Regions from separate parts of the Homo sapiens genome. Here region 2 is linked to region 1. The links come from fine-mapping of genetic effects on gene expression. Tissue or cell type: whole blood. Region 1 holds a variant in brackets; the other region holds the start of a gene. Each region is shown on its reference strand, or each on the opposite one.

What was found. PIP is the estimated chance that this variant, and not a neighbour inherited with it, causes the effect. A credible set is the group of variants that fine-mapping cannot tell apart.
Region 2: FKBP8 starts here. The variant in region 1 is the best candidate, but not a certain one, in a credible set for the expression of FKBP8 in whole blood (TOPMed, PIP 0.53).

What each region holds. Positions count from the first base shown.
Region 1 is chr17:35,544,198-35,549,572 of GRCh38, reverse strand. SLFN14 (schlafen family member 14) reads left to right here. Exons shown (of 6, transcript NM_001129820.2): 6 at 500-5,375. The coding sequence ends at 1,334. Among named protein-coding and RNA genes, the nearest start is that of SLFN12L, 9.2 kb to the right of the region's middle. The variant A/T (reference allele first, on the strand shown) is at 2,280.
Region 2 is chr19:18,540,626-18,546,000 of GRCh38, reverse strand. FKBP8 (FKBP prolyl isomerase 8) reads left to right here and starts at 2,428. Exons shown (of 9, transcript NM_012181.5): 1 at 2,428-2,515; 2 at 4,006-4,322. The coding sequence starts at 4,031. RefSeq lists a silencer at 2,183-2,612 and an enhancer at 4,175-4,675.

The DNA.
Region 1 (5,375 bases):
TCCTCTTGATGTTTCTCTTACCAAAATCTAAAGAAGCTTTAGAGGAATTTGAACTAGTCCGTGCTTTTTTTGCACATAAAAATTATGATATGCATCGAGGAAACTGTTTTCCAGCTCTAAAGAGGATAGAAAGTAAAGAAATGGTAGTAAGAAGTGTAAGTTAACTTTGAGATTTCCTTTAGATGTAATGAACTTGTCTTCAGGATTGCCAAACAGTAGGAATGGATTACTAATAGACATAATACAATCTGTTACCTGGGTTCATTTCAGAAGTTTCACATGCAGGTTTAACTGGATAACCCCAAAGAGCAAGGTGTAAAATTATGCATTCTGTCTGTCAGGTAACTTGTAATTAGAACAGTTTTGTGGTATTCACACTACTGAATCAATGACTCAGCCTGCAGATGAGAATCAGCCTCTGATTCCATTCCAGAGAGTAATGACTGCTGGTGTTCTCTTTGTTGATATGCCTCAAGCCCTGTTTTTTCCGTCCTTACAGCCAACAAACCACCTGCCAAGCTGTGACCAGGAAAACTTTCATGCAAGGGGAGTTTCTAAAGATTAAACACATAGTGATGGATGAGACTGAGAATTTCTGCAGCAAATATGGCAATTGGTACATGAAGGCTAAGAACATCACCCATCCAAAGGCGAAGGGGACTGGAAGTGAAAACCTTCACCATGGGATTCTCTGGCTTTTTCTTGACCCTTTTCAAATCCATCACGCAGATGTCAATGGCCTTCCCCCTCCATCTGCTCAGTTTCCTCGAAAAACAATCACCAGTGGGATCCACTGTGCTCTGGAAATAGCGAAGGTTATGAAAGAAGAAATGAAGAGGATCAAAGAAAATCCTCCCTCCAACATGTCTCCAGACACATTAGCATTGTTCAGCGAGACTGCCTATGAGGAAGCAACGTGTGCCCAGGCTCTGCCTGGGGTGTGTGAGACAAAGACTAATCTGACAACAGAACAAATAGCTAACTATGTGGCAAGAAAATGTCACAGCCTGTTCCAGTGTGGCTATCTGCCCAAAGATATAGCAATTCTGTGCAGGAGAGGGGAGGACAGAGGACGCTATAGGCTTGCACTACTCAAAGCAATGGAATTAATTGAGACCCACAGACCATCAGAGGTTGTGTTTAGCCCGGCCACCGGTGTTTGGGGAAGTCACATTGTTTTAGACAGTATTCAGCAATTTTCAGGCCTGGAGAGGACTGTCGTGTTTGGGCTTAGTCCAGAATGTGACCAGTCAGAGGAATTTCATAAGCTCTGCTTTGCTTCAAGAGCCATTAAACACCTCTACCTGCTTTATGAAAAGAGGGCAGCCTACTGAAAATTATTACAAATAATAGAGGAAGACAGGAAGAGCAGAGTCCTTTCTCCTAGACAGGTAGCAGTGACTCCATTTTAATATTACAAGTGAGGAAATCAAGGCACATCAGTATGGCCTGGAGCCACAGAAATGTCTCTTGGAGCTGAGCCTTCCACTCTATTTCAATGCCACTGGCCTTTTCACAATTTCCTTCACCTCCTACCTATACAATTACAATAGACTTCATTAGTCCCCTGTCTCCAGCTTTCCCACTCAATCCAGCTGTCATCCATCAGAGAATTTTTCCTCAAATAGAGAACTGATTTTATGTAATACCTTGCTAACATATCTTCAATGAGTCCCCACAGCCTTCAAACCTAACCAATTTTCAAGGCTTTCATTAATATGCCCTGACTTGCTCTCCCAACCACATCCTTTATTGTATCTCCATCTCCCCATGTTTCTCATGCACCCCAGCCCACCTGGCATAATTTTTGGGTGGTGGTATGGTGCCCTCCAGGCTGGTTACTTTGACTGCATAGGTCTCAAAAGTAGCCAATTGACTGGCACCTCATACTGGCTATGGGTCTCAAGCTTTCCAGGTCCAGAACTTGATTGCCTTTTTGTACCAAGTCTAGATCAGTCTCTTGGGGATGCTTTATGCTAATCAAGCTCACAAAGGACCAATGCATACATCAAAATGTTACTCTGTTAATTTATAGTGAGGACCATAGTCATAAGTGGGTCAAATGCTTTTGCTAATCAGTGCCCTCAACAGTAATATAGGAAGCCAAATTATATGAACATAGCCTTACAGTAAGGGAAGCTGGTAATTTGATTCAAATCTTAAAAATCTTCAGATTATATTAGACTATTGCAATATCTATTAGGTTGGTGCAAAAGTGCAAAAGCCACAATTACTTTTGCACCAACTTAATATAAAATAAGATTGCAATAATTTCTAAA[A/T]TAAAGATATTTCTATCACAAGGACTAGACAAATTAGTTTACAGTTTACAAGCTAAAGCAAATTTAGAATGCTAAGGATGACTAGTTTTTCATTATTCTTTGCCCTCAGATGAATTTTTTTTTCTCTGTCTTGGTTTCTAAAATTTCCAGGTTCACCACCAACCCTCTCCTTACTGCCCCCAACATATACAAATTTTGCCTACATTTATCCTCTATGTATGTGAATACATTCATGTAGGCTAGAAATGCCTTATACTCTGCCGCTGGCCTGGAAAGTAGTCTTCCTACAAGGGGCCTTTGCACATCTCTGATTTCTTCCATTATGACTTGGTGCTAATTTTTAAATCCAACTCTCAGAGTTTATGGGGATCCTTGGTGGCAACTTTACCACCAACACCACCCACACACATCCCCGACTCCTGGTCTGTGCCTGTGCCATTTTCTCAGTCTTTAAACCCTTTTCTGTCCCCTCCACCTTTGAAATCCTTACTTGGCAATCACATCCTTTTTCAAATGCCTACTACCTCAATTAAACTTTTATTATCTCCCTAAGTGAAACTTTCCAATGTATATGATACATATTAGAAATGAAATCAAAGTTCCCCTTTTCTAGTCAGTTCCCCAAATGGCTGAGCCAATTCTGTACTCTTCAAATTACTCTTGCTTTTGCAAGGATTTTTAAATTGCTTTGGAAGTATTCATATTTCCAAACTGTTTTTAACTTCTAGAAAAGTTTAGGATAACTTGATTGACTCTGGGGAGGCTTGAATCCAGGAGACATGTGGAAATTTTGGTTATGATTTTAGATAAAGCCCCTCAGCCTTCCAAGAGGTGGAAGAGCAGGCAGGGTTTCGAGAAGCTCTCTTAGCTGCCTTTCTGAATTGCTTAGGCCCATTAGAAGGGCTAGTCTGTACCTAGGCACGGGTTGAAAAGAAAAACCTCTCCCTTGCTTCCTACTGCTCTAATTACCTGGTGTTTCTTCCTTTTTACCTTTCCTTGGGGGCTTTAGGGTAGTTTTGGATAGGAGGAAATGAAGTTCAGCAATCGGTTTTGCAAAAGATGCCAGTGCATTGACATTCTGATGTAGGGAGATGTATGAATTCTATAAAAATAATTTAAACAGTCAAAGTCAACAGAGTATGAAGGAGTATGAGTGGGACAAGGAATTGCTATATTTTAGTCATAAGCCTTAGTACCATTTGACTTTTTAAAATATATGCATGCATCATATAATTTTTAATAAAAGAATTGATTTGTAAAGAATTGTTTTAAATATTGAATTTGAGAGTCTTTGTCAGTTCTTAGTCTAGTGAAACAATTCAATCAGGATGAAAGTAGAATAACTAACTCAGTGATTCTCAACCCTGGATGCTCATTATAATTTCCTGGGCGACTTAAAAAAAATCAGTGATCAGGCCAGACACCAGACTAATTAACCTCAGTGTGTCTGAACACAGGCTCGGGCATCGGTATTTATTAAATGTTGTCCAGGCAGGGTGCAGTGGCTGGTGCCTGTAATACCAGAACTTTGAGAGGCTGAGGTCTGGGGGAATCACTTGAAGCCAGGAGTTGGAGACCAGCCTGGGCAACATAACAAGACCCCATCTCTACAAAAAAAATTTTTTTAAAAACTTAGTTGGGCATGGTGGTGCATGCTTTTAATCCTAGCTACTCCAGAGGCCAAGGTGGGAGGATCACTTGAGCCCAGGAGTTTGAGGCTACAGTGACCTATGATTACTCCACTGCACTCCAGCCTGGGTTACAGAGCAAGACTCTATCTCTTAAAAAAAATCCAAATGATTCTAATATGTCACAAGGGTTGAGAACCATTGAACCCTTCTCCTAGTCTGTTCTTTCTGTCCTCAAAAAATGTGTGCACATTTCTCTTCCTATTAAGACTGTGAGCTCCTTGAGAGTAAGAGGATGAGTCACTTACACATCCTTATTTCCCCTAGAGCAACTAGTACAGTGCCTCACACAGGGCAGGTGCTCAGTAAATATTTGCTGAATTGTACTTGTAGCTTTTAGAAAACTAGAATCTACAATGATTCAATTCGATAGTATGAATTTCTAATGTTAGAGATTTCAAAGAAGTCAGTGTGGAGAATAATCTTTAACACTGTAATAATGAAGAATAAGGGAACAATAAAGGCAACTCAATTGTTTTTAGGCAACAGGTCAAATTAAGGATCTATGATGATAGTTCATTAGATTCAAATGTAAGATTAGGAACTGGTGGGGACTAAGAATAATGGACTAACTTGGTTGTTTTAGAATTCTCAATGTTTTCTACAAAGTCTTAATATGATGGATAAAGCAATTAACTAAATGAAATAACTAAGATAAAAGAGAAGCTTTAGAAACTGTGAGAAGCTTCTAAAACTTACTTTTAAAAAGAAGGGTAATATAATATTATCATGGAAGCTTCGGAAATGGAGAAAGGCAAAATTAAAAGTTCTTAAATCAGGCTGGGCGCAGGGGCTCATGCTGGTAATCCTAGCACTTTGGGAGGCTGAGGTGGGTGAATCACCTGAGGTCAGGAGTTCAAGACCAGCCTGACCAACATGGAGAAACCCTGTCTCCACTAAAAATACAAAATTAGCTGGGCATGGTGGCGCATGCCTGTAATCCCAGCTACTTGGGAGGCTGAGGCAGGAGAATTGCTTGAACCTGGGAGGTGGAGGTTGCAGTGAGCTGAGATTGCGCCACTGCACTTCAGCCTGGGCAACAAGAGTGAAACTCTGTCTCAAAAAAAAAAAAAAAAAGTTCTTAAATCATCTTGTTATCTGGGTGTAACATTTTTTCATTTTTGCTTATTTATTTCTATTCTTTGTTGATATGGAAAAATATTTTCACACAGTTATGATCAAGTTGTGCCATCAACTTTATAACGTATATGTGTGCTTTTTCCATTTAATTGTTTTGTGAGATATTGCTATAGACTACATTATTGTTCCCAATATTTCCTACCTCTCTATATCTATACCCTTTGTAGTTACTAACATTAGAGGTAGAGATATTTTCCACCCCTGTAATGTGGCCTTGGTCATGTGACTTGGAATGTTAGTAGTTCTGATGTGCACAGAGGCTGTACAT
Region 2 (5,375 bases), not on the chromosome of region 1:
CAATGAGAAAGAACAAAGCCTTCCCAGACTTTGGGGCTCTGCCAGTGTAGAGGGCAAGGCAGAGGTAAATCAAAGCAGTGGCTCACGCCTATAATCCCAACAGTTTGGGAGGCCAAAGTGGGAGGATTGCTTGAGCCCAGGAGTTCGAGACCAGCCTGGGCAACATGGGGAAACCCCATCTCTACAAAAAATATAAACATTGGGCCGGGCGCGATGGCTCACGCCTGTAATTTCAGCACTTTGGGAGGCCGAGGTGGGCAGATCACAAGGTCAGGAGATCGAGACTATCCTGGCTAACACGATGAAACGCTGACTCTACTAAAAATACAAAAAATTAGTCGGGCATGGTGGCAGGCGCCTGTAGTCCCAGCTACTTGGGAGGCTGAGGCAGGAGAATGGTGTGAACCTGGGAGGCGGAGCTTGCAGTGAGCCGAGATTGCGCCACTGCACTCTAGCCTGGGCTACACAGCGAGACTCTGTCTCAAAAAAAAAAAAAAAAATTAGCTGGACATGATGGTGCACCTGTGGGCCCAGCTACTCAGGAGGCTGAGGCAGGAGGATTGCGTGAGCCCAGGAGATAGACATGGTTGCAGTGATCTGAGATCGTGCCACTGCACTCCAGCCTGGGTTTCAAAGTAAGACCCTATCTCAAAAAAAAAAAGGCAGAGATATAAGTAAACTAGTTTGGGAAGCCGAGGCAGGCAGATCATGAGGTCAGGAGTTCCAGACCATCCTGGCCAACATGGTGAAACCCTGTCTCTACTAAAAATATACAAATTAGCTGGGCATGGTGGCGGGTGCCTGTAGTCCCAGCTACTCAGGAGGCTGAAGCAGGAGAATCGTTGGAACTTAGGAGGTGGATGTTGCAGTGAGCCGAGATCGCGCCACTGCACTCCAGCCTGGCGACAGAGAGAGACTCTGTCTCAAAAAAAAAAGAGAAAGAAAAAAAAAAAAAAGGCCAGGCACGATGGCTCATGCCTGTAATCTTTGGTACATCGAGGTGGGCGGATCACGTGAGGTCGGGAGTTTGAGACCAGCCTGACCAACATGAAGAAATCCCGTGTCTACTAAAAATACAAAGTTAGCCAGGCATGGTGGTGCATGCCTCTACTCCCAGCTACTTGGAAGGCTGAGGCAGGAGAATCGCTTGAACCTGGGAGGCAGCGGTTGCGGTGAGCTGAGATTGCGCCATTGCACTCCAGCTTGGGCAACAAGAGTGAAACTTCTTCTCAAAAAACAAAAACAAACAAACAAACAAAAAACCCAAGTAAACTAGTTATGAAGTGGACGTTCATCAACTTCATTGTGCCAAGACAGCTAAAGGGGGCACCTGGTCTTGCCTTGGGGAGGTTGGGAGGGCTTCCTGTAGGAGGTAACCTGGGAACTCCAACCTTAGAAGTGATCTCCAAAAAGCCAGTTACCACCTCCATGATAGCTACCTCCAAAAGCTGGTGTCTGACTCATCCATCCATCCATCCATCCATCCATCCATCCATCCATCCACCTACCCATTTATTGAGCTTCTATAGATGCCAGGCATGGTTCAAGGAGGTGCTGGGTACAAATCAGGTAAAAATCTCTGCCAGGATGAAGCAGAGTGAGGGATGGTCCCTCCAACCACAAGCAAAATAATGACAAGATAATTCTGGAAGGAGTAACTGCTAGGAAGGAAATAAAACTGAGTGAAGGAGGGAGAAGTGTCCCGGTTTCAAAACAAGATCCACAAAAACTTAGCTAATCAAGGATGCCACCTTCTTCCCGAGCCATGGGGACCTTATCACCCTCCAGCAGACAGTGCATAGAGGAGGAACTCCTCCCAGTGGCCCTGCTGGCTCAGTCGCCTGCGCAGCAGTAATCGAGCGCCTCCAGTATGCACCAGGCAACCTTCTAGACATTAAACTGTGTGGGGGATGGGAGGGAGGTTTCTGTATGCCTTTGGGCACGTCACTCCTCCTCAGGCCCTCAGGTTCACTTCTGTAACTAAGGCTTCAGGATGGGTCATTCAGCAACCCCAGAGCTGCCCTGCCCGTCAAGCTTGAACTCTTTAAGGAAATAACATTTAGAGTGGACTGTGCCCCCAGCAGCCCCCAAGGTGAGAGTGCATAGATGGGGGTGTTTATCCCCATTTCGCAGATGGTCAGGATGAAGCTCAGAGGAGAGGCAGGAGTCGCACAGGCTGCGCGATACTGACCCGTGTTGGGGTCCAGCCCAGGGTCCCCCGCCCCCGCCCCAGCCCCCGCCCCAGCCCCCGCCCCAGCCCCCGCCCCAGCCCCAGCAGCCGGGAGGCTTCGGTCCCTTTAAGAACGCCCCGCGGGGCCAAGCAGGAAGGGGGAGGTGCCAACGCCCGGGACGGACGTCTGCATGAGCCAACGGGTGCGGCAGTCGCGGCAGCGGCGGCCAATGGGCACGGCAGGGGCGGGGCCAAGCGGCCGAACCTGGTTCCCGAGGCGCGGCGGCCGCGGCTGGGGGCGGGGAGGGGGGCGCAGGACCCCAAGTGGGGGTCCCGGAGCCAGAGGCAAGTGTCCTGGGGTGCTGGGGGCGCCGTGCCGGCCGGGCCGCTGCCCTGGCCTAGGCTGGTCCGGGGGCTAGCGCGCCGGGGGCTGCGGCCGATGGGCGGGGCGAGGGGCCGCGGGGGTGGCGAGCCGGGGGGGCACGGGGGTCGGGGGTGCCCGAGGGGGCGCGGCCGGGCGGGGGTGGCCAGGGATGGGGGTCACTGGGGGCAAAGGGGATCCAGTGGGGGGGTCCCGATGGAGGCGTGCAGGGCCAGGGGCGCCCGAGGCGTGCGGGGGTCGGGTGCCCCAGACTGGTGGCGTCAGACAGGCGTGGGTCGTTGGGGGCCTGGGTCGCGGCTTGACTGAGGGCCCGGCCGGGGCTGTGGGGCGTCAGGAGAGCGTGGGGTGTTATGGGATCGGAAAGGGGGGGGCGTCTGGGGACACTGGAGTGTTTACGGCGAGACGGAGCGGCTGTGGGGGGAGCTGGCCCGTGCTGGGGGCGGTGGTGGTTGGGGTGGGGGGTGGGAGGGGAGGCCGAATTGTGCGGGCGCGGGGAATTATGGGGGTGGGGGCTGGGAGGGTCTCTCAAAGTGGGGCTCCGAGCCCGGGAGGAGCAGGCAGGTGAGGGTTAGGGAGGGGATGCGGCGGGCTGGTTTGATGGCTGTGCCACACTCTTCTGAGCTTGGGGCCTGGGGGACGGAGGGGTTGGTTATTGGTTCAGGAGGTCTGGGGCAAGGAAGAGGCTGTAGAATGTGGTGGGACCTCGACCACTCCTGGAAAGGAGGCTGCTTTGAGGGGGTGGGACCGAGGCCTGATGAGAGGAGGATGGTCTCCTGGGGAAGGATTTGGGCCAGGGTCCCTGATGTTGGGGTTGTGGGGGATAGTGTTAGATTCAGAGTGTGGAAGGAAAAAACGCTTGGGGTTTCTGGGTGATTACAGTTGGTGCTTTTGGGGAGGGTCTCCCCTTTGGAGAAGAGGCTGGAGGTGGGAGGCCCTGGTAAAAGATTCAATTTCCCCCAGTGGCCTTAGAGGCTCTAAAAATGGCTTCCCTAAGGCCTCGGAGGCTGTCCTCTCCACAAAAATCCCAGCACCCTTCGCTCAGCTTATAATCAGGCAAAGCCACAGGGCCTGAAGCCCCAGGTTCAAATCCTCCTTTGGCCTTTGGCTTTCTCTGTGACCTTGGGCAAATGCCTTTGCCCCTCTGGCCTGTTTCCTGTTCTGCAAAATGTTGAGGGGAATCTTCCCTACTTCCTGGAGTATTTGTAAACATTAAATAATAATTAGCTCTAATAATGGCTAACACTATTTGAGCCTGATGCCAAGGGCTTGATGCATGGGTTAATTTCTCCCAACAAGCTGGGGTTGTTGTTACACCCACTGTATAGATGAGGAAACTGAGGCCTGGAGCCCTTGAGTTACACAGAAAGTGATCGGCAGTGTGGGGAATCAGTACAGTGGAGACTTTGAGGGGCTGTGTAGGATTCTGACCCACATCTCTGCCCCCCACTTCCAGGGCCAATTCCTGTCCCCCCAGCAGCATGGCATCGTGTGCTGAACCCTCTGAGCCCTCTGCCCCACTGCCCGCCGGGGTCCCACCGCTCGAGGACTTCGAGGTACTGGATGGGGTTGAGGATGCAGAGGGTGAGGAGGAAGAGGAGGAGGAAGAGGAGGAAGAGGATGACCTGAGTGAGCTGCCACCGCTGGAGGACATGGGACAACCCCCGGCGGAGGAGGCTGAGCAGCCTGGGGCCCTGGCCCGAGAGTTCCTTGCTGCCATGGAGCCCGAGCCCGCCCCAGCCCCGGCCCCAGAAGAGTGGCTGGACATTCTGGGTAAGGAGCAAAGGTGGATCAGGGTGCCCTTGGCCCTGGCCCTCTCGTCCCCTGAGCCTCATTTCCCCATCTGTGCTGTGAGGGTTGGAAGTCACGTGGTCACCACCGTGATCACCAGCCAGAGGCAACTACTGGAGATGCTTCACATTGATGTACTCTATCCACTGACTCACACACATGCACAATGTGCTGTGTCCCCGTTTCCCAGATCTGCTAACAGTGGCTCAGAGAGGCTGAGTCACCTGCCCAGAGCCACACAGCCAGCACGCCAGGCGCTGGCAGCTCCTAACCCCATCAATGCATCTTTTTTTGGCATTTGTCTGACACATGCTTGGGCTCTGAAAAATGTGTCCTGAGTGCACGCCAGCCTGGGCAACACAGCGAGACCCCAACTTCCAAAACAAAAAATGTGTTCTGGGGTCAAGTGGATCAGAGGAATGTTATTTTGTTCAGCCTTCTGGTTGGTTCACAGTAGTGATAGTATTGTAAATGCTCAGAGCAATCCTACAAGAAGAAAACTACATGAGCCCCCACATGTTCCCCCCAACATACCCCATCACAGCAACTGAAAACAAGAGAAATGTTAGTTTTCTGTGGAAGACGTCTTGCTACTAGTATAGTACTGATATCTAATATACCAAATAATGCTGGTGCCCATGCAAATAATAAGATATCATTACCACTATCAATTGTAATAACAATACTGTAGCAATAGTTTCCAATCATATTGACACTGATGGAACAGAAATATTACTAAATATCACCACCACTACTGATAAAAATCTTACTACTTTTTTTTTTTTTTTTGAGACAGAGTCTGACTCTGTCACCCAGGTTGGAATGCAGTGGTGCGATCTCAGTTCACTGCAACCTCCGCCTCCCAGGTTCAAGCGATTCTTCTGCCTCAGCCTCCTGAGTAGCTGGGACTACAGGTGCCCACCTCTATGCCTGGCTGATTTTTGTATTTTTAGTAGAGACAGGGTTTCACCACATTGGCCAGGCTGGTCTCGAACTCCTGACCTCAGGTGATCCACCTGCCTTGGCCTCCTAAAG